Homo sapiens: one gene and its partners. The protein of the gene in region 2 purifies or fractionates together with the protein of the main gene of each other region. This does not show direct contact. Each region holds a gene or a part of one and is shown on either strand. Other genes may lie near its edges.

Region 1 (3,802 bases), on a different chromosome or scaffold from region 2:
TACTGGCTAGGAAGAGTGGAGATAAAGTTGGATAGGTAAGATAAGCTCAGATCAGAAAGGGTCTCAAATTGCCTTTTACAAAATAGGAGAATTTAAACTTTACCACGTGTAATCACTGCACACTCTTTAGTAAGATAATGAAATAGTGTTAACTGATGATCAATATGGCGGCTGTGGGTAGGGAGACCAAAAGGAGATCAGAGAGCCCAGGAGGGGAATGACTACAATTTCCCAGCTAGAAGGTAATGAATAGTAGGGTTAAGACGGTAGCACTGGAAATATGAAGGGAGAAAGAGATATTTCAAAGAAAAATGGACAAGGCACAGAAATTTGCTAGTTTGAGGATAAAGGAGACAGAAACACTGAAATAAAAAGAAACAACAACAAATACCACCTCCCCTTCCAACCCCAAACTCTATTATTTTGTATCTAAGAGGCCGAAGGAAAACAATGATATGCTTTTCTGGGAATTGACATTATATAACAAGATTGAGATATTGAGGTTTTTTTGTTTGTTTTGTTTATAAGCTGTATAATTTTATCTTTCAGTAAAGAAATGGAGGCATTACATTTCTGCTTATGAGACCTTTAGTAGACAATTAAAAAATCACAATTATATCAAAATTACAAAATAAATGTCATACTATAACTTTGTATCTGTCTTCAAAATTATGTGCAAATATAAATGAAAACACATATCCTATTTGAGTGGTTGTTGGAGGCTGGGGATGGGGGAAATCACTGCAAAGCAGCATGAGGGGACCTCTTTTTGGAATGGAGGAAGTGTTCCATATCTTGACTGGAATGGTCACATAGGTATTGATGTTTGTTAAAACTCACTAAACTGTTCACTTAAAATGGGCACATTTTATGTATGTAAATTAAAGCTCAATAAAATTGATTTATGAAGGAAAAAAGTGGGCCATAAACATTTTAATTTTTCAAACTGAAAAATCTGAAGAGTTGGCTGAGGTGACAAAGCTAATTAAGAAATCACAGAGTAGTTTCTTTTTTTTTTTCTTTTTTTTTCCCGCAAACAGGGTTTCACTTTGTAGCTCAGGCTGGTCTTGAACTGCTGGGCTCAAACTATCGTCCTGCCTCAGTCTCCTGAGTGGATGGGATTATAAGCACACACCACCGTCCCTGGCATAAAATAGTTTTTTAATTCACAAGATTTAATAGGTAGATTAAAAGAAGAGGTAAGACAAAATTAAAAGAGGTAAGACAAGAGAAGGAAAAGTCAGACTGACAGATTATAAGTTCCTATGGTACACAGTCCCCTTAGATTGGAAGAAAGGAGCTAAGAGGGTAAGGAAGCTTGGTTGCCAGTTTTTTATAACTGGCAGCCTGGTGATATTGGGTGTGGTAGCTGAGATGTCCCAATTGTAGTCACAAGGCCTAAAAAAGCAGATCTTTACAAATGTTTAAAAATACTAGCTCAATGTAAATAAGCATGAATGTTCTTGACCTCCTTACTGTGCCCTGAATGTGCCAACCACACTCTCATTCCACCATCTTTGCTCCTGCAATGCTGTTTGCCTGCAGGCCTTCCTGCCAGGAGCTTGCTCCTTCTCTCTGTCCACTCTGGATATAACAGCCCTTGCCCTTCTCCACTTTACGCTCTCTTCCCTTTCTCTTCTTGTACCTTTATTTTCCTGCATAGCACCCATGATTATCTGATCTATTTTTTTCCCTTTTTTTTTCATTCTGGTGCCCAGGCTGGAGTGCAGTGGCACAATATTGGCTTACTGCAGCCTCAGCTTCCCTGGCTCAAGCCATCTGCCCACCTTAGCCTCCCGAGTAGCTGGGACTGCAGGTGCACGCCACCATACCCGGGAAATTTTTGTACTTTTTTTGTAGAGACAGGGTCTTGCTATGTTGCCCAAGCTGGTCTTGAACTCCTGAGCTCAAGCAATCCACACACCTTGACCTCCCAAAGTGCTGGGATTACAGGCATGAGCCACTGCACCCAGCCTGATCTATTATTTATTTACCAGTACCTTCCCTACTGGAATGAAAGCTCCATGAGAACAGAGTCTGTTTTGTTCACTGCTATACCCCTTGTGCCAAGAACACTGTCTGACATATAACAGTAACTGGAATATTTAATGAATGAATGAATGAATCTAGGTATATGATGGTGGGATGAGGAAATAAAGAGATAGAAAATGTCAGTACTGTATAGGTTTCAGGGACAATGAATTATCAATACAATGATATATTGCCTGAATTTCAGCATATCTTAGTAACTGCCTTAAAGTTACAGAAGGACTGAGATAATCTGTTAGAATGTGAACAATAAGAGCACCTACCTCACAGTATCCACATAAATTGTTTAGTGCAGTGCCTGGCACAGAGTAAATGCTCAACAGTTGTTAGTTATGATTAAGTCTGAATAGTAACTCACACACTAAAGTAAAATTGAGGATTTGAAACAGAAATCAGGATTTCCGTTCCTCCTTTGTTAAAACTAGGCACAGTATTCAACAGTCTAATCAATTTCTAAAAGTACCATTTAAAACTGAGGTATTTAGTAAATGGTTTATAGACTACTTAGCTCTGTAACTGAAATAAATTATTCTCCAAACACGGCTTTCCTCAATGAGCTTAATGAATGTTTTCTGTTTACCATTATTGATGCTTTTACAAATATCTCCTATGCCTCCAGAATGATCTCGGTGCCAGTGAGTCACTACAATTTCCTGGATTGCTGTGTTAAATTCAGTTAGAGCCTGCTTTAAACAGCTGATGTATTCTGGAATTGCTGGTTCTCCAGTGTCAATGAGGATTCTCCTGAAAATTAAATGGAAGATAATCACACAATTGGAACACTGCGTTGACATTAGCATTATTTTGCACACAGATAATTTACATTAAAGAAACTGCAAAAATTATTTTACTTTTAACATGCACAAAAACCAGCTACATCACTTCAGCTTAACTACAGTAATCTCACCCTAAGAAAGTTTTCTGAGAAAAATTAGAGCTAAATATAAGTCTGAACAAGGAATAATAGCAGTCATCTTGAACATTTACATAGCAATTAAAATAAACATGGCACCATTCCAAGGACTTTACATATTTTACCAATTACATTCCTCGTAACAACTGTTTAAAGTAGATATTTTATCATTATATTTAGAAGTAACTTGCCCAGGTTACTCTACAGATAAATGGCAGAAACAGCTTTCAAACCCAGGTATTCTGATGCCAGAATATGTGCTTTTATCTATCTGCCTTTGAGATCTCATATCTCAGTATATTTCAAAAGTTTTATAGATATGAAAGATTTTGATTCAATGGCACCCCTAAAGAAACTAGTCTTTGGCACTAGATATACAACTTATCACTGAAGTTTTATATTAGCACCCTGACACATGAAAATGAAGGCTTTAGTGAAGCATGGGAAAAACATCTGAGCTATTTTCTTTCTTTACTTAGACAACCCCATTAGCTGTATTTTTTGCTTGTGGTTCTGAATCTTCCTTATATTTTGTTTGCCCTTCCTCACGATTTTATGAGGTGGCCTTTCTCTGTGAAGTTTTGCTGAACTAAAGACATGGGGGTGACATGTTCCTCAAGATCCAATTCTTTTTTTTTTGAGACAGGGTCTTGCTCTGTCACCCAGGCTGGAGTGCAGTGTTGCGATCTCAGCTCATTGCAGCCTTGACCTCCTGGGCACAAGCGATTCTCCCACATCTACTTCCTGAGTAGCTGGGACTACAGGTATGTGCCACCATGCCCGGCTCATTTTTGTATTTTTTGTAGAGATGGTGTTTCGTCATATTGCCCAGGCTGGTCT
Region 2 (3,802 bases):
GTCTCACTCTGTCGCCCAGGCTGGAGTGCAGTGGCGTGATCTCGACTCATTGCAACCTCCACCTTCTGGTTCAAGCGATTCTTGTGCCTCAGCCTCCCAAGTAGCCGGGATTACAGGCGTGCACCACTGCACCCGGCTAATTTTGGTACTGCTAATAGAGATGGGGTTTCACCATGTTGCCCAGGCTGGTCTTGAATTCCTGGGCTCAAGGGATCTGCCTGCCTTGGCCTCCCAAAGTGCTGGGATTACAGGTGTGAACCACTACACCCAACCCAACCATATATATATATATATTTTTTTTTTTTTTTTTTTTTTTTTTTTTTTTGATTAGCTGAGCTTGGTGGCCCAGCTCCTCAGGAGGCTGAGGTGGGAAGATCCTCTGAGAACGGGAGGTCGAGGCTACAGTCCAGCCTGGGCAACAGAGCAAGACCCTGTCTCACAAACAAACAAACAAACAAACAAACAAAAACAATAGGGAATCTGGGTACAGGAATATAGGAACTCTCTGTACTATCTTTACAACTTTATTGTAAATCTAAAGCTATTCTAAAATAAAAAGTTAGTTTTTTTTTTTTAATGGCCTCCCTATGCTATGATATTTGGGGGAATAACGTCTATACCTTACAAACAGAAAGGAACTTTTGTGGCTACCAAAAACATACTGAAAAACTTTAATCATGTCCAACCAATCCTCCCAAATCCTCACCCCAAATCCACATGAATTCCAACAGGCTGTTAAAATCATACAACTCTCTAAATTTCGGAAATTTCTTACTTTGACTCATGAAGTTCTCTTAAACCAAAATCTTTAAGGTAATTAAAAAATATCGCCAGTAGCCAAACATTTACATGTTGCAACTGTAAGACAGCCAGTCCTGCCTCAGCAAATTAAAAGTGGACTGGACCAAATGTCACCAGGAGTAAAAGCATAGCAATTACAGATCTATGCATATTTAAGGAATATAAACAAATCACATATAAATATATGTATCCACACACCTTCGTATATCTATATGCCTACACATAGTCCTACACACACATTTGCACATGATACATATACAAATATATATATATTTAAATATAAAAAGTTGATCATAGCCAATGGCTTCCTCAAGCAAGAGTTTAAGAGATCAGATTCAAGTATAAATATTTTGTCTACTTTCTTAAGAATTGTCATAGCTGGGATTTGACCTTAGATTTCATACTCAAAAGACTTTTCACATCACCCAGCCCATAGCAAATTACTATAGGGATTTGGAATAATTAAAATTTGAAACTGTAAATGCGATGTTTAAAAAATTTGGTAGTCAATTAGAGTCACAAAATAGGCATGATCTGTTTGGGAGAAAGTCTGGAAGGGGACCTGGGGCATCGTTATTTCACTCCCAAGTGTTTCTGAGGAAATCCGATGACCACAGCTATAGTAAGGCCTGGCTCCAATGTCAACTCACTTACAACAGAGGTCTGTGATGTGACTCCCCCAGGTTACAAAGATCCCCTTTATAGCACAAGCCTCAGTAGGCATTAGAATCTGAGTGCAAATCTCAATTTCACTAATTTCGATTACATGAACTTAGGTAAATATCTCCATATGCAATTTCCTTATCTGTAACACAGCAAGAAAAATAGTATCTACATCATAGGGGTATTTCAAGGATTAAATGGGCTTCATATAATCAATCAATAAATGTATTAGGCTATTCTGATGTCCCTCATATATTAAACACTACACTCTAAAACTTAGCATATGTTAAAAAACTTACCCTCTAATGAGGATAAATATTTACAATTAAGATCCCTTTAGAAACCTATAAATATATTTATAGGAATGCTAACATTGCATAACTTGTTATGTTAACATAATATGCAGAATAAGGAAAGTGAATCATAAAGTGATTTATAAAGTAGATTTCCAGATGTTACCAAGACCTTACCAAATCACTAAGACAAGATTGTTCCTGGAAAAACAGATCAGGGACTTTTTAATTTAGGCTGTGAAATAATACTTATTGGCTCTTATTTTTACAACATATTCACCTATTGTGAACATTGATGTCACTGGCATAAGGTTACAACCCTAGCTTATCAGTTAAGGTATGAGTTTTCTAAATCCCCAAGGGACGCCAGCTGTCTCCACCCACCCCAGGGGTGAGGACTGAAGGATTTCTTAAGACTGTGCCTCAGACTGGGGTGAAGGTGAAGCTAGACAAGCCCAGGACCACAATGACATTTGAATCTACATTGGGATTCCCTTGGTTAGCTAAATGCAAGAAAAAAAATTCAAAATTCAGATCATAGCTCCTACTCTCAAACACAGTTTATTTATAGGTAGCTCTAATGTATTCAGAAGGAGCAAAAAAGGATACAATGCTTTAGGTATTATTCTGGAATGTTAATTTTTTTTTAAGTGACACACATCAAACCAATGGGGTAGAGACAATACAACCACCTCAGGATCCAGCTGTCTCCTCTCTGAGCATTAGCTCATCTACCCCCTCTTCCTGCCACGCTCCTGAGGCAAAGGTTTTGTAATCAAAAACCACTACCTTCAAACTATCAAGCCAAAGGCGAACAAGGTTCCTTTCCTCCTGCCTTCCCTCCCTTCCCACCATGAACCTGTCAGTCTCTTCTAGCTATAAAATGTTCATGCCCCTGTTTAAAATAATAATAATAGTAATAAACTTCCAAGAAAATGAAAGCTGGAGCAAAATGCCCTGCCAGTTAACCATCTTGGGAAAAGGTCAAAATAACCTTCCCTGGAACGCCCTTATCTTCTGGCCACAGAAAGCTGCCAAAGCCTTCCCTGCTATGTACAGAAGTAAAATCCCCTCACTGGCATCCTTCTTACACTGTCCATTTCCTCCTCTCTTCTCTGCAGGCTCTGTCTTTCCTGGCCACAGGCTGGAAAATGCACTGGTGGTAGCATGATACAACATTTATGTAAATTTCCATAGTTAAATGTTTCCTTTACCTAAAACTTACAAAATACCTTTTGAAAAATTAAAACTTTTAAGTCATAAAAATGACGTAAATCCCCACTACATAATCCTCTCATTTATATTCTTTCCCGTGTCTCAAAATTCATCAGATCTCAAGCATTTGGCAAAGCTGCAGACATACAAACCAAGCATGAAACATGAGCTATGCCTTCATCTACCTGAGCTGTCGGCAGACATTGTTACTTTGACAGAATATTTAAGAAAAGAAGTCACCAAAAACTTACCACAGCCTAATACTGGCAATGGGGGGTCTTAAAGATCAGTTCTCATAGAACCACTAACAAGCACGGGTGCAGTGTGGCAAAGGCAGCCACTGTGTTTCACAAGGTCATCAGCCACAGCTGTCAGAATAAGCACGAAGGCAACTCATACCACGGCGCAAATGAAGAATACATTCTAGACTAACAGTACGTGAGCCAGGGCCACAGAGGCTCCAGGGCCCAAGTGTGGAGAAATAATAAATCACTATTTACGCAATGAACTACATGTGGCCAAACTTGTGCTCTTTGTCCCTGCCTTCAAGAAGGGGCCAACCATCCCCAGTAACATGGACTCACCGATAGGCCACCTTGAGTCTTCCTAAGTGACAAGCATTTATTCCAAAGAACAAGGAGCAGCACCAAGACAAATGAACAAACAAGAGCTCAAGTTTGTGACTTGTTTTCCAGACTGCTCAATTCTCATTAAACATGCAAGCAGTAGTGCTGTGTTCGGCTGTAAGTGACGCTCTGCATATGCCTGGCTAGCTCCTCCACACGCATTTGTGGAGGAGCTAGCCAGGCATATGCGGAGACTTGCCATGT
Region 3 (3,802 bases), on a different chromosome or scaffold from region 2:
CTTCCTGGTAACCAGGCTGGATCCAGAGAGCTGCAGCAAGTTAAATGTATTTAGCTAGATATTGCCGTGTAATAAACCACCCTGGAACTCCATGGCATGCACTACTAAGCATTTATCACGCTCCCAGGCTTACAGATCAGCTGGGGCTTTCATACATTGGACGGGGGAGGCTGGAGTAGGCTCTGCTCTACTTTCTCTTGCTCTTCAGAAGCCATGGGCTAACCAGGGCATATTCTTCCCATGTGGTGGCAGAAGCCAGAGAGGGGTGAGCAGAAACACGAGAGTTTGGGTTCAGGCTCGGAACTGGTACTGAGTGACTCCCACCCACCGGGTACTTTGGATGAGAACTGCACCCAGGCCAGCATTAGCAGCTAGCTCAGCGGCCAGCACCCTCTGCTGTTGGCTCTCCTGTGGCTGCACCCCTGACAGCCAGGTCTGATGACCCAGATGGCAACCACTGCAACTGGAGTGGTGTGGGCTCTGCTGTCGGGCACACACTGAGTCACAGTGAGAACCTCCTCCACCGTCTCTACAAAAAATTTTAAAAATTAACCAGCTGTGGTGGTGCACGCCTGTAGTTCCAGCCACTCGAGAGGCTCTTGAGAGCTACTTGAGAGTAGTTCCAGCTACTTGAGCGGATCGCTTGAGCCCAAGTCAAGGTTGCAGTGAGCCATGATATACTCCAGCCTGGGCAACAGAGTGAAGACCCTGTATCAAACAAACAAAACAAAACAAAAAACCAGCCCTCGGCCTACTTTTGGCAGATTTTCTTAGAGCTGACTCAGTAGCACAAGGGTGAGTGTTGGGACTGAGATCCACAGGCTGGCTGTGAGACTGAGCATATCCCTTTACGATTCTGGAGCTACACTTTGGGAGCTCTAAAATAAGAGGAAGTGCACCAAATAGTTTCTTAGGTTCCTCCAGTGCGCACGCGCGCGCATGCACACACACACACACACACACACACACACACACACACACACAATCTATGGGCTTATGTTCTACAGAATGCCTCGAGTAGCTGGAGAGGCTGGGGGATGGCGTTCTCCACTCCATCAGTCTCACAGACATTCTGTGCACCCCATGGAGACATGGGGTCCCTATATTCCCCACTAAGACCAGGAGTTACAATGCCCAGAGATCATGTTCTGTAAATATTCCTTGACTGAGAAAGGGTTAAACTATCTAATGCCTCCAAAATACTTCAATGCTGAAGAACAGCGCTTGTATAGCCCAAGTTCTTCTCTGCCTGAATCAACTTGTCCTCTAAAGCTTTGATGCCAGACTGGGATTCTGCTTAGGTAAGAGGCCTGCAGTACTGGGCTGACTCTTCACAATAGAAATACAAATCAGAAACAGATCACTTGAGGCACCCATTAGAAATGCACACGCCCAGGCTGCTGGGCAAACCACAAATCTGCTAACGCAGAAACTCTGATGGTGTGGGGCACAAGGACCTACACTTTCAGTAAGTGGCAGGGGCTGGGTGATTATTTGAGCCTCCTCTCATTTCCCCTCAAATCACCTTAGCAGGGGTCCTGTGAAATAGGGTTCATCAACAGGAACAGTGCCTGCGTCCTGGAGATGGCAGGAGCCCACATTTCTAAAGGACAGGAGCATGTGACTCTTAGCAGGAGGCAGACCTCAAGGCTGTCTCACTGCAGAGGCAGAAATGTGAATAACCAGTGAAGTGGTTCTCAAAGTCCAGTCCCTGCGCAGGCAACCGCAGCATCACCTGGGACCTTTTTGGAAACGCAAATTCTCAAGCCCCATCCCAGAGCTACCCAGAGTCAGAAACGCTGCGGGTGGGGCTGGTACCTGTTTTGACAAGACTCCAGGTGACTCTGATACCTGCTAAAGTGGGAGAACCACTGACACATGGAAGTGACAGCCAGGGAGGTGGGCGCCTGAGACCTCAGCACATCACTCCAAAGGCCTCTCAACATATCACTCCAACACTGAAGACACCTAAGAGATTCCTGCAAGTTTTTGTCAGAAAATTCTTCTCCCCTTCATGACTTTTGGCTTCCCCAGAGTAGCCCTGAGGGCCAACTCCCTTCCTGCTCCTTCTGTGGCCACTTCTTCCTTGAGAGTTGGTCTCTCCCACAGACAGCATTTCCCTGGAGATGCAGCACTGGGGACATGAAGCCCAAATTGGACTTTAGAGCAGAAGCTCTTGAAGTAAAAACTTCAGGAGGGAATATAATAAAAACCTGAGTTAAAAATCCTAGGCTTGTAGTCCCAGCTACTCGGGAGGCTGAGGCAGGAGAACTGCTTGAACCAGAGAGGCAGAAGTTGCAGTGAGCCGAGATCGTGCCACTGAACTCCAGCCTGGGCGACAGTGAGATTCTGTCTCAAAAAAAAAAAAAAATCCTAGGCATTCCTCTGAGTCATTAAAGAACAGTGGGCCATCAGCTGACAAGGGTGGGGAAATGGCTGATCCTGTGCCACTTCCTGCAGGTGGGCCCCAAATGAGAAGGAATGTGAGTGTGCTGGTGCAATGAGCACCGGGACAGCCCTCACCCTGCCCCTGCTCAAACACCACCTTGAATGTGGGCTTTCTCTTTATTATTAATGAAGGCTTACCTCCCCTCTACTAATGACCGTTGGGACAATTATGTGGGATCCTTAAGCAAATACCCAAATGGAATCTTAGACCTCCTAATTGTGAAGTCAGTCACAGGAAGCTGTCACTTGTGTTACTACTGGTCCATAATTGCTGGCTAGGGGAAAAAATGAGCCCAAACCCCAACTCCGGTTGTTGAAATAACAGCCAGATACTAGCTCAGGAGCTGAGCTATAGTCACCTTCCCCTTCCCCACCTTCCCCTCTTTGGAGAGTGAGCAATGGCAGTTCTGGGAACCAGCCCATGTGGATACCTGGACTATCACTTTTAGGCCAGAGATGGAGGGGAATGGCTAACAATTAGGTATTATTTGGGCAACACATTAGACAGAGAATACAGGACACAAGAAAAGCTGTGCTGACTTTAGCCTCTTGGTGCCCTAGAATTTTTGTCTTACTGCAATTAGGCTGGGCACAGTGGCTCACACCTGTAATCCCAGCACTTTGAGAGACTGAGGCAGGAGGATCGCTTGAGCCCAGGAGTTGAGACCAGCCTGGGTAACATGGCAAGACCTCATCTCTACAAATAATAAAGAAATTTAGATGGACGTGGTGGTGCATGCCTATAGCACCAGCTAATCTGGAAGCTGAGGTGGGAGGATCACCTGGGAGGTCGAGGCTGCAATGAGCCGTGATCTCACCACTGCACTCCATCCTGGGCAACAGAGTGAGATCCTGTCTCGAAAAAAATTAAAAAATAAATAGAATAACAAAGCAGTCTAGTCCCATGGAGAGATAGGAAGGATCCTCAAATGTGGAAGACCCTAACCCAGACAGGACTGTGGCTGTCTAACAAACACCAGTCTCAAAAAAAGCAAGCTTAAGAATGAACTTATTATAGTATCAATGCGGTGATTACAAATTACTCAATATTTCCTAAAGACCATGAGAACTCCAGAACCCATTCTTACACAGGCCCTGTGGAAGAATCCAAGCAGGAATAATTGGATTATTTCCAGCCAGTGACTTTCAGGAGGACCACATATCTTCAATGTCTTCACATTGTATCTGAAAAATGTATCTGAAGCACTCAAACACCAAGTCTACTCAAATACGCTTCCCAAGCAGCTTTTCTGTACATCTCTGCTGCTTCCAGACGATCAGCTGCTGAGATTATGCCACGACCTACAATGATGATATCGGAACCTCGTTTGCCAATAACTTCTTGTGGGCTATT
Region 4 (3,802 bases), on a different chromosome or scaffold from region 2:
GAGCAGAAAATAAGCAAAAATACACAATGGATAATGCACATAAGTCCCATCTGTGGGGATCCTGCCAATGGCGTATCCAGCTTGAACATGTGCCATTCTATTACCCTTTGTGGGCGTGCTTGCATGGGGAAATCCGGGCATGTGTAGAAAAGTTATACTGCAGCTGAAGCGGGCTGAGAGGGTCTTTTTTCCCTAGGGAACGCCAAATAAACTGCGTGTTTTACACCTGCATTTTGACTGTGACATCAAAATGCACATGTAATGTCATGTCAGTGCTCAAAAAGTTTCAGATTTTGGAGCATTTCAAATTTCAGATTTTCAGATTAGGGATGCTCAACCTCTAAATTTAAGTTAAGATAATAGGTTGCCTGGTTGCCATGACACTAAAAAACGTGTCTTTTGCAACTATAAACTTTTGATTTGAGAAGATAGTATTGGCTAAGAAGTTCCTCCAGTTCAGCTTCAAAGTCCTAGCTATAAAAATGTAAAGCAAAGGGACAAACATCATTTGGCATCATTCCCTGAAAAATAAATGGCTCCATCACAATAACAGATACATGATCCAAAACAAAGCTGCTGGTCCCCAGGGGTGGATGACAATGCCCAGTGCTTCCACCACTGCAGCAGCATTAAAGCTACTCCTTACTGATAGATAAAATGACGGTGGCGCTTTATTAGTCTGCATTCCCCAAAAGAACAGCAAAGGGACTGTCTGCCACTGCATGCAGAGTAAGAAGGTTTGATTAGGCTACTCCCCAATTCTGACACTCTCCACCATCAACGGCAAACTATGAGCCATTAATGGCAAACTATGAGGATGAAAAGTCCTTGATGTATTCCTCTTTCTTCTTTGTACTCGGGTTTTTGGCTGACATTAGAGAAAGAAGAGGTTTAAATCAGGTGGAAATCCTAGATAAGCTTAAAACATGCTTTCAAATTTCAAAAAGTAAACCTATTATGTATGTGCATGACCCATAAATATGCTTCACACTCCATCCAACTCACTCCATAATTTGTGAATCTTTTGTCTATAAGTCCTCACTGAACTGTCCAAAAATGGGCTTTGCCTCCAGTGACTACAAAGTCACTACCTGGTCACCCCTCTCTGCTCTATCAGGGATGATCTGTAACTAGCAGGTGGGGGCCTGTAAACAGTCTTCTGCTGACTCTTCTGGGCTGAACTGCCTGAAGGGTTAGTGACCATAAAGCATTCGGTGATATTAGTAAGCAACAGCTTCCCAAATCTACCTTACCCACCTCTTTGGCCTAAACTTTGCAGGTAACTTATTTAAAAAGGAGAAGGGTCCTTTGGGTAACGGATGTATTACTTCCTACTCTCCTAAAACCAAACTCCAATGCTGCACCTTAAATAAAAGCCCTCAAATCTTGCCTCCTGACGTCATGCTGTCATTTGACTTGGCTGCAGGCCCTGATACTCCCCTGCAGGGAGAGGGCCTGCTCTTTGCCCCAGCCTTTACCCCATTCCTCCTTTCTTTCATTCAGTCTCCTTCTACTCCCAGTACACCTCTGGCTGTATTTTATTGTAGTGGTAAACTTTATTTTTACCAAAAAGGAGGTGTGGGGGGGATTTCTGAATACTTTATATAAGCCTAAAGTATACATTCTGCTCATTAGACAGACTGCTAGCTGCCCCAACTACATAAACTTAGATGCTTGGTAGAAGCAATGGAACAAACTTCTCTACTTTTACAAATATAACATTTGGCTAATTTAGAATAGAAATTAATTATTTTCAAAATATTTAACTTCTTGTAACTTTTTAATAAAAGAAATAACACTGTTCAAGTGAAACAGGGCACTTCCTATTTCATTTAAGGGGAAAGCCAAGCTGATAATGCCATAATACCACCTAGCGTTCTCATGTATATGACATTATTTGACTTAGAAAAAATTTTTAATACTCTCTTCTTCTACCTCCCACTAGCAGGAAATTCCATTCTTGCCTTTCCTTTTCACCATTTCATCTCCAATCACCTAGAAAAATGATGTCTGGTGCATAGTAGACCCTTAATAAAGGAATAAAGAAATGTGTAAAAGGAATTTCCTGAATAACTATTTTAAAACTTTTTAAATGAGAAGACTATTATTAAGAGTCTTCCTATGAGCAGGCAACAAACAATGACAAAAGCTATTGTTCACAGATAAAAATGTCCAAAATGTGATTAGGATGTAAATCTCTATCAATGCCTGACAGGTATCTATCAAGAAGTCTCAAAAAATACCAAGAAACATACCAACCAAATGCATGAACCTTGAATGAAATCTGGCTCAAAACAAACAAGAACCAGCTATAAAGATATTCTTGGTAGCACTTTGAGAGGTCAAGGTGGGCAGATTACCTGAGCTCAGGAGTTCCAGACCACCCTGGGCAACATGGTGAAACCCTGTCTTTACTAAAATACAAAAAATTAGCTGGGCATGGTGGCAGGTGCCTGTAGTCCCAGCTACTTGGGAGGCTGAGGCAGGAGAATTGCTTGAACCTGGGAGGCAGAGGTTGCAGTAAGCCGAGATCGCACCACTGCACTCCAGCCTGGGTGACAGAATGAGACTCTGTCTCAAAATAAATAAATAAATAAAAATATTCTTGGGACACTTAGGGAAATTTCATTTAAGTATTAACTGGATATTAGGTGGTATTATGGACTCTTAGGTTTAATAATGGCATTGATGTTATGTAGAAGAATGTCCTTATTCTTAGGAGATAAATGCTTATATATTTAGGAGTGTCATAATATCTGCACTGTACTCTCAAATGATTCAGCAAAAACATGTGTGTGTGTGTGTGTGTGTGTGTAGAAAGAAAAATCAAGCAACTATGGCAAAACATTAATGACTATTTAATCTAGGTGCTTGTTGTTCTGTTCTTTACTGTATGTTAGGAATTTTTTCAAAATGAAAAGCTGGGGAGAAGGAGAAAAAATTCTAAGAGTCAATGAAACTGAACTGTAATCCCCATTTTTATCACTTTTTTTGTGACCAAGTCATTTCACTCACCTTTTTATTCATCAGTTCCCTATTTACATACTTAGAGCAAATGAGATAACGAACATAGAGTGCTTTGCAAAGGAAAAAGCATGATACAGAATATGTAACATCATCGTAACCAACAAACTCTGAAGTTTAATCGCATCCAGACATCTGGTTTCTTTCTCCTCACCTTCTTATGGTTGTAGATTTCACCATTGTAACAGAGCCACAAATACGGATATTTCTTCACTCGAATTGGCTGCATTCCAAACAGCGGGTCAACTACCGCCAACCGGTGAAATCCAAAGCAGCAGTTGGTGTATCCATTGACATTCTCAAAACGGAATGCATCTGGACCTCTGTGTGCAATCTTCATAGCACTCAGACACTGAACAGAAAGGCAATCATCACTGCCAAACAGCGCCCAAATGCCACACATGGTGCAATGAAGCTATAAGCTTTCTATGGAGAGAAAAGCAGACAAATCAAAAATATTCAATATCCAATCCAACTCTGCATTAAATCTTGATTCCGGAAACGTGCATAAACCACTTCAAAGACTAAAATTTAAACCATCTTTTCTATAGCGATTTCCCATTAGGTTGGCAGGCACATGGGAGTAGAGAATGATTTAATTTACTTACAGGTATTCGGAAAAGATAGTGACCTCTACATTCAACCGGCTACAGCAGCTTAGCACCTAGCCAAAGCCTGCATCTCTCCCACCTTAGGATTTAGTGGTTGGCTAGAGCTGACAGCGTCCATGCCACATCTGTCTCTGCATTCTAAGTTTGCTTCCAAGATACAGATACAA
Region 5 (3,802 bases), on a different chromosome or scaffold from region 2:
TAACACAATAGAAAGGATGAGCCATGGGTTTGTCTCAATACATGGAGAAAAGGCATTTGACGGAACCCAGTATCCATTGCTGATAGAAGTGTTCAGCAAACTTGGAATAGAAGAGAATGCCCTTTAGCCTCATAAAGGACATCTTTTAAAAACCTACCATTGGCATTAAACTTAAGGGTAAAAAGAATGACAGTTTTTCCTCTTAGATCAGGAAAAATAAAATTTCTCTTCATCCACTTTTATTCAACAATGTACTGAAGGGTCTAGCTAATGTAGTAAGGCAAAAAAAAATTTTTTTTAAGAAAACGAATAAAAGGAATCCAGATTGGAAAGAAGTAAACTTGATTTTATTCACCGACAACATGATTGAATTTTTGTAGCAAAATTGTATATTTACAAAAATACTAGTGGAAGTAAGTGTAATAAGGTTTCAGGATATAAGATTAGTATTCAAGAAACAACTGTGTTTCTTTATGGCTGCAATGAATGATTAAAAAGGGAATTTTAAAACTGCCATTTGCAATAGTATCAAAACCAGGAAATACCGAGGCAGAAATCTGATGAAACAGTGTGCGCTCTGCACTGATAACTACTGCTCTGTTTCTAAGTGTCCCCCAGAGTTCATGTGTTAGAAACTGAAGCCCCAGTAAGAGAGTGTTGAGACATGGGACCTTCAAGAGGCGACGCGAGTGCTCACGGATGGACTCATGTCTTTATTGTGGATGCGAGTTGCTTATAAAAGCCAGTTTGGCCCTCTCCTGCTCTCTTTCTTGCAATGTGATGCCTTCGGCTACGTTATGACACAACAAGAAGGACCCTCACCAGGTGTGGCTTCTTGGTCCTTGACCTGGAGGACTTTCCAGCCTCCAGGAGAACTGTGAGCCAAATGAACTTTTATTTTTTTGAGGCAGTCTCACGCTGTGACTCAGGCTGGGGAGTGCAGTGACACAATCTCGGCTCACTGCAGCCTCCACCTCCTGGGTTCAAGCAATTCTTGTGCCGCTATACTCGGCTGAAGTTTGCATTTTAGATACAGTGTTTTGCCATGTTGGCCAGATGGGTCTTGAACTCCTGGCCTTATGTGATCTGCCCACCTCAGTCTCCCAAAGTGCCAGGATTACAGGCATGAGCTACTGCTCGCAGCCAGCTTCTAATGTTTATATTAATCAATTGCATAGGCAGTGGTATTCTGATAAAGCGTACCGAACGGATGAAGACAACTGCAAACACTGCTGAGAGAAATTTTTAAAGACCTAAATAAATGAAAAGATTTGCTGTTTTCATGGATCAGAAAACTCGGTGTTGTTAAGAAATCAAGAAATAAATTCTCAGCCAGGTGCAGTGGCTCATGTCTGTAATCCCAGCACTTTGGCAAGCCAAAGCAGATGGATCGCTTGAGGCCAGGAGTTTGAGACCAGCCTGGCCAACATGGTGAAACCCCATCTCTACCAGAAATTATAAAAATCAGCCTGGTATGATGGTGCATGCCTGTAATCCCAGCTCCTCAGGAGGCTGAGGTAGGAGAATTGCTTGAACCCGGGAGGCAGAGGTTGCAGTGAGCTGAGATCACGCCACTGCACTCCAGCCTGGGCGACAGAATGAGACTCCCTGTTAAAAAAGAAAAAGAAAGAAAGAAAGAAATTCTCCTTAAAATTCATCTGTATGTACATTCATTCCAATTCTAGTCAGAATTCCAACAGGCTTTCTGTAGAAATTAATAAGCTTATTCTAAAATTAATAGGGAAATGCAGAGGACCTCGATTACCCAAACAGCTTTGACAAAAGAAAAAGAAGACTTATGTGACATAGTTTCAATGCGTATTACAAAATGGCAATAAAATAATCAAGGCAGTCTGATAGTGGCATAAAGGCAGACAAACAGATAATTGCAACAGAGCAGAGCCTTCAGAGATAGACTCACACGTGTACAGACAATTGACTTTCAACAGTGGCTCCAAACAGGAACCAAAATGGCGCTGGCCTTCTAAATGGCAACACTGGAAATGCTGAGGGTTCCAACTTATATATATATAAAATTAGTGAAGAACTATCACTAAAGGGATAAATCAAGAGGAAAACGTAAGATCCAGAAAATAGATTCCAGCACATACAGGGCAGGAGTGAAGGGATGTCATGGACGGTAACTGCAGGAAGCGTAGGCATGAGCTACTGCAGATTAGAGCAGGAGGAGCTGAGAGGGAGGGGGTAGGGGGAAGGAACTGATGTGTTGGAGTTCACAGAGAACATTATTGATAGGTGTGTGGCAGAAATGTTGCAGAAATAATTTACAATCGGACCATAGAAAAACTGCATAGTTTTAAAATGTGGCAATTAGTAACTCCACTAAAAAAGGATTATGCTTGCACAAAAAAGGAGAGGTGGTTTTGTCAACTACTTGTCTTGACAGTGTGTATTATCTGCGGAGTCACAGTAATGCAAATCTGACTTCCTGATGAATGTAGCTGAGTGGAAATGGGGTTTGCTGTGTTTGCTGTCCACATTGCTCAGCATCTGAGATGTAGCCCTTTGTGAGAGAGCTGGTGCCCGAAGGGGGTGTCTCTTCTGCCTGTGCTCTGTTACTCAGGCCTGCCGTTGGTCACTCCATGTGCCTCCTCAGTGTTTGGTTGTGTCCAGCCCTACTCTATGGCAGGACAGTCTGCTTTACTTCATTTACTAGTTTCCTATCAGCCAGTTTTTAGGGGAAATCTTTTCTAGAATAACTTTGATTCTAGTGTGTTTTCTAGAATAACTTTGATCCTAATATGTTTTAGGAAAAATATAAACATAATATGCCGGGCATGCGGTGGCTCACATCTGTAATCTCAGCACTTTGGGAGGCCAAGGCAGGTGGATCAGGAGTTTGAGACCAGCCTGATCAACATGATGAAACCCTGTCTCTACTAAAAATACAAAAATTAGCCGGGCATGGTGGTGGGCACCTGTAATCCCAGCTACTTGGGAGACTGAGGCAGGAGGATGGCTTGAACCCGGGAAGCAGAGGTTGCAGTCAGCTGAGATTGCACCACTGCACTCCAGCCTGGGCAACAAGAGCGAAACTCCATTTAAAAAAACAAAAGACAAAAAATAAAATTATAAGTGCCTTTACTAGTCTTGTTTAAATAGGCTGATTCTTTCTCTTTTTTTCTAATGCCCCCTAGGAAGTAAAAAGAAAGAAAAGGAACGGCCAGAAATTTCTCCTCCATCTGATTTTGAGCACACCATCCATGTTGGCTTTGATGCTGTTACTGGAGAATTCACTGTAAGTTAACCTAGTTCGGGCCCATTTATAACGTTTAAAATAGCACTCAAACATTTTCCTTCATTATTAAATTTGAAATTAACATTTCAGGCCAGGTGCGGTGGCACACGCCTGTAATCCCAGCACTTTGGGAGGCCAAGGCTGGCAGATCATTTGAGGTCAGGAGTTCGAGACCAGTGTGGCCAACATGGTGAAACCCCATCCCTACTAAAAATACAAGAAAATTAGCCAAGCGTGGGGGTGTATGCCTGTAATTCCAACTACTCAGGAGGCTGAGGCAGGGGAATCATTTGAACCTCGGAGATGGAGGTTGCAGTGAACAGAGACTGTGCCATTGCACTCCAGCCTGGGCAAGAAGAGTGAAACTCCGTCTCAAAAAAAGGGAAATTAACATTTCTATCTATACGTTAACTATGAATTCTTACTGCTTTTTGCTTTTTATAAAAGTGTTAGTGGTTGGATATATCGTTTTCCTAGAGAGCAGAGCCTATTAATTATAGTTATGCAAAACAGACTTAGAAAAAATAGACCTAGGCCGGGCGC
Region 6 (3,802 bases), on a different chromosome or scaffold from region 2:
CTCTAACTTAAGTGCATAGAGAAAGGACAGTAGTCTGGAATGTTGCTGCTGGTCTAAGTGTGAGGATAATTCTATTGCCTCTTGTGAATACTAAACATATTCTGATAGTGCTATTTTTTTTCACAGCATTCTATTCATCTAAAAGCACCGGTAATTAACGATGCTAATAAATGTATAATCCCTTTGTAAACATCTCTTCACAAGGTCATAAAGAAGGAAGACTGAATGAAGGACGCCAGGCTTTCATTTTAGAATTAATTTTGTCATTGAATGCACTCACTGCATTATTTGATAGAGTACTTTTGCATTTGAAGTAGTACATTTGCCTTCTACCATCTCATTAACATTGCTTTCAACAGAATCAGAAATAACACAAACCACTGCAGGGTAATTTTGAATGCTCATTTGACTATGCAGTGACATCAAGTGGCGAGTTGAGGAATGATCATATGCTGTGTGAGAACTCCGTGTTAAAAATTCCATGGAGCCAGGCTAGACACCACATTTGGCACTTTCAGCTGTTTAGATTTCAGAGAATTAAAAGGAAATGGTCACCGACCTGCCTTTGATAGTACCCGTATACCCCTTCCCACCATAAGAAACCAGCGTTCCTTAGAGAAATGGCTAATTCTAGCTCTAGGGCAAGAAATGCTAAGATGTGCTCAAAACATCTCATTATACCAGCAAGCCAGGGAGCCATCAACGACTACTGGAGCTGTGTCAAAAGGACCAACAAACCAACTTGAAGAGGCTCCCGCTGGCCAACAGTGGGGCAATTAGAGCATCAATAAGAATAATATCTGTAACAAACTGAAACGTATCAAATATGTTTAAATTCATATGTTTATAATTACACTCAAAAAACGAAGATGCAGACCACTTTACCTTGAGGATGTTACAGAATGAAATTATCATTCTGAAAACTGGTAAATAAAGAGAAGGTATCAAGTAAGCATGTATCTGGCTTTTTCTATATGAAATAAAGGAAGCCAAATAGTAAACGAGGGGAAGTTTCTCTTTACTGAAATATTGCAGGTAATAAAAGAAGAAGGAGAAACAGAGAACATTATCGTTTTATGGCCTCTAATGGAACAAGACATCTAGGCAATGATGAACTATGGTCACCAACATCACTCAATCAGGGACAATCAGACACTGTGGGCCCCTGAAGGAAGTAAACACCACCACGTAGGAAATATTCTCACCAAAACTTCAAAAACTTGAATCTGATCTAGTCTTTAGTTTCAACTACTAATTTACAGGCAATACGGGGCTCAGAGGGATGTGGTAAAATGTCACGGAAATATAATCAGCAAAATCCAGTACAGATAATAAGAAGACAAATGATCCACAGATGGAAAGGAAGAATGTAAAGTTGTGTTGGTAAAGAAATTCACAGATTAATAAAAGCTTAAAAATGTACCATCAGCCAGGTGTGGTTGTGTGCAACTGTAGTACCAGCTACTTGAGAGGCTGAGGTGGGAGGATTACCTGAGCCCAGGAGTTTGAGGCTGCAGTGAGCTATGATCACACCACTGCACTGCAGCCTGGGCAACAGAGCAAGGCCTTGTCTCTTAACAACAACAACAAAAAGAAAGTACTACAAAATCTGACTTGGATCCAGATTCTAACAAAATATTAAAACAAATGATGGCCAGGCGTGGTGGCTCACGCCTGTAATCCCAGCACTTTGGGAGGCCGAGGCAGGTGGATCACAAGGTCAGGAGTTCAAGACCAGCCTGGCCAAGATGGTGAAACCCTGTCTCTACTAAAAAACTACAAATATTAGGCACAGTGGCAGGTTCCTGTACTCCCAGCTACTTGGGAGGCTGAGGCAGGAGAATTGCTTGAACCCAGGCAGCAGAGGTTGCAGTGAGCCAAGATCGCACCACTGCACTCCAGCCTGGGCAACAGAGAGAGACTCCGTTGGAAAAAAAAAAAAAGTAATGGGGGAAATCTGAGCATTGAATATTTTATATTATAAATTAATGAAGTACTATTGAAATTTCAGAAAAAAGGTATTGTGATTATATTTTAAAAAAATCTTCAGTAATTACCTGAAATATTTATGAATGAAATAATATAATGTCTGGAATTTGCCTAAAAATAATCCAGGGTAGGGCTGGGTGAATGCTGTGAAGATACACATGACACAGAATTGGCCTTGAGCTGATCGTTGCTGTAGGTAGGGGATGGGCACATATGATTTCATGATCTTATATGCTTCTACCTTTCTATAAGTTTGAAAATTCCCATACTAAAAAGTTAAAGACAAAAGAAAAAAAAATTATATCCACTCATTACTCAGGGTCTGGTAAAACAAATGATCAGAAACTAGCCCCATCTGCTTGAAGTCTTAATGTGAACTGATTCAATCATGTCTATCTCATTCCTTATGAAATAAGAATGAACAGACAGAAGGGGTAATTGCCAAAACCTGCTTCAGGTCATAAACATTAGGTAATACATAAATAGTATCTTAGTAAATACTGAAAGATATTTAACAATAATCCTATAAGGTTACATTACATGCACACACACACACATCATATATAGGAGGTTATATTATCAGCACTTAACAAATGCAAAAGCTAAGTCTTAAAGTGGCTAACTTCCCAAGCATCATTCTGCTAGTAAGCAGTAGAGCTGGAATTCAAATAAAATACAAGTTCATTTTATTATACCTGCTGCTTCCCAAACACAGGAAATAGAATGGAAAAGACAAGCAGACATCTAACCCAGGGCACAAGATTTAAGGAGGCGCTCACTCTCAGTCCCCATCCTGCACTTGGACAGCTGTGAGAGTGAGTGCTTCCTTAAATGCTGCACCCAAGGTGCATCTCCACCCTAGGAAAAGATATTGTTAAGTTAATTTGCTTTCTCCACACCCTCTGAAGGGAAGCTGGGAAGTCTGAATGAGGACTGCAGGACAAGCACAGGAGCTGAGGCTCCGGTGCTAGCTCCCAGCTGCATTACATTCACTGTCCTCTGGAGGGCCCTGCAGTCACCTGGCCTAGGACTACACACAGCGGTGAAACTCACATTCTCAGAACATTGACACAGCTCCGGGGAAAATGGTCCCACCATCAGGTTCAGGGTTGCAGCAGGGCAGCCAAGTTTGGAGGTCCCTGAAGTGGACCAATACTCAGTCCAGTGCAATATTATATGTATGTGAATTTTTCATGAGGTTGCTCCTGAGCGGAGCCAAACCACCTATGATTACTTCTGGTGAAGATCCTGGTCTTTCCCTGAGCCTGGTTTGGTGCCTGTCACATGGGAGTGTTTTAACAAATGTGAGGAGTCATCAATGATCTAGAAGACTTGGTTTCTGAGGGCAGTTTGGAGCACAAGGGATAGAAACTAGTAACCATTTGCACCTGCTATTCTCTACAGTCAAGGGAAAATGACCCCACATGAAGTCCTGGAAACAGGACCAGGATGACAAGAGAATAGATGTGTGCTCTGCTCAAAGGACTACCATCCAGGAACAACAAGGAGGATGGAAGCCCAGCTCTAGCAAATGCTCCCTGCTCTCTGGCATTCAAAGGGAGTGTGGGGTAGAAATCAGGTATTCCTCAGCCCTTTATGCTTCCCATGTGTCCACGAATCCAGACCATGGCTTGACTTAAGATATTTGCTGAGTCTCCTAGAACCCTGCTATGGCTAATGTAGACATTCACTGTAAGCTTAAGCAAAGCTTAAGCTCGTCCCATCAATTTGGCAACTGGCCAAGGCATTTATTCTGATAAAATGCAAATGTGTGTGTGCTGCAGCCTGAAGAAATTAAAATGAGAAACTGTTA

The links.
Region 1: the proteins of ISOC1 (region 2) and LACTB2 fractionate together in Homo sapiens (co-fractionation; one large-scale study listed by BioGRID). This does not show direct contact.
Region 3: the proteins of ISOC1 (region 2) and UMPS fractionate together in Homo sapiens (co-fractionation; one large-scale study listed by BioGRID). This does not show direct contact.
Region 4: the proteins of ISOC1 (region 2) and ASNS fractionate together in Homo sapiens (co-fractionation; one large-scale study listed by BioGRID). This does not show direct contact.
Region 5: the proteins of ISOC1 (region 2) and PAK2 fractionate together in Homo sapiens (co-fractionation; one large-scale study listed by BioGRID). This does not show direct contact.
Region 6: the proteins of ISOC1 (region 2) and HEBP1 fractionate together in Homo sapiens (co-fractionation; one large-scale study listed by BioGRID). This does not show direct contact.

The regions. Positions count from the first base shown.
Region 1 is NC_000008.11:70,659,105-70,662,906, forward strand, and holds part of LACTB2 (endoribonuclease LACTB2), read right to left. Parts: exon of another isoform or gene 2,794-3,802; coding exon 2,630-2,793; exon of another isoform or gene 1,041-2,629; intron 1-1,040.
Region 2 is NC_000005.10:129,097,685-129,101,486, reverse strand, and holds part of ISOC1 (isochorismatase domain-containing protein 1), read right to left. Parts: intron 3,800-3,802; exon of another isoform or gene 3,721-3,799; intron 1-3,720.
Region 3 is NC_000003.12:124,743,938-124,747,739, reverse strand, and holds part of UMPS (uridine 5'-monophosphate synthase), read right to left. Parts: coding exon 3,656-3,802; 3' UTR 1-3,655. UniProt on the Homo sapiens protein: Bifunctional enzyme catalyzing the last two steps of de novo pyrimidine biosynthesis, orotate phosphoribosyltransferase (OPRT), which converts orotate to orotidine-5'-monophosphate (OMP), and orotidine-5'-monophosphate decarboxylase (ODC), the terminal enzymatic reaction that decarboxylates OMP to uridine monophosphate (UMP).
Region 4 is NC_000007.14:97,865,730-97,869,531, forward strand, and holds part of ASNS (asparagine synthetase [glutamine-hydrolyzing]), read right to left. Parts: intron 3,451-3,802; 5' UTR 3,428-3,450; coding exon 3,179-3,427; intron 1-3,178.
Region 5 is NC_000003.12:196,798,769-196,802,570, forward strand, and holds part of PAK2 (serine/threonine-protein kinase PAK 2), read left to right. Parts: intron 1-3,158; coding exon 3,159-3,259; intron 3,260-3,802. UniProt on the Homo sapiens protein: Serine/threonine protein kinase that plays a role in a variety of different signaling pathways including cytoskeleton regulation, cell motility, cell cycle progression, apoptosis or proliferation.
Region 6 is NC_000012.12:12,983,218-12,987,019, forward strand, and holds part of HEBP1 (heme-binding protein 1), read right to left. Parts: intron 1,426-3,802; exon of another isoform or gene 127-1,425; intron 1-126.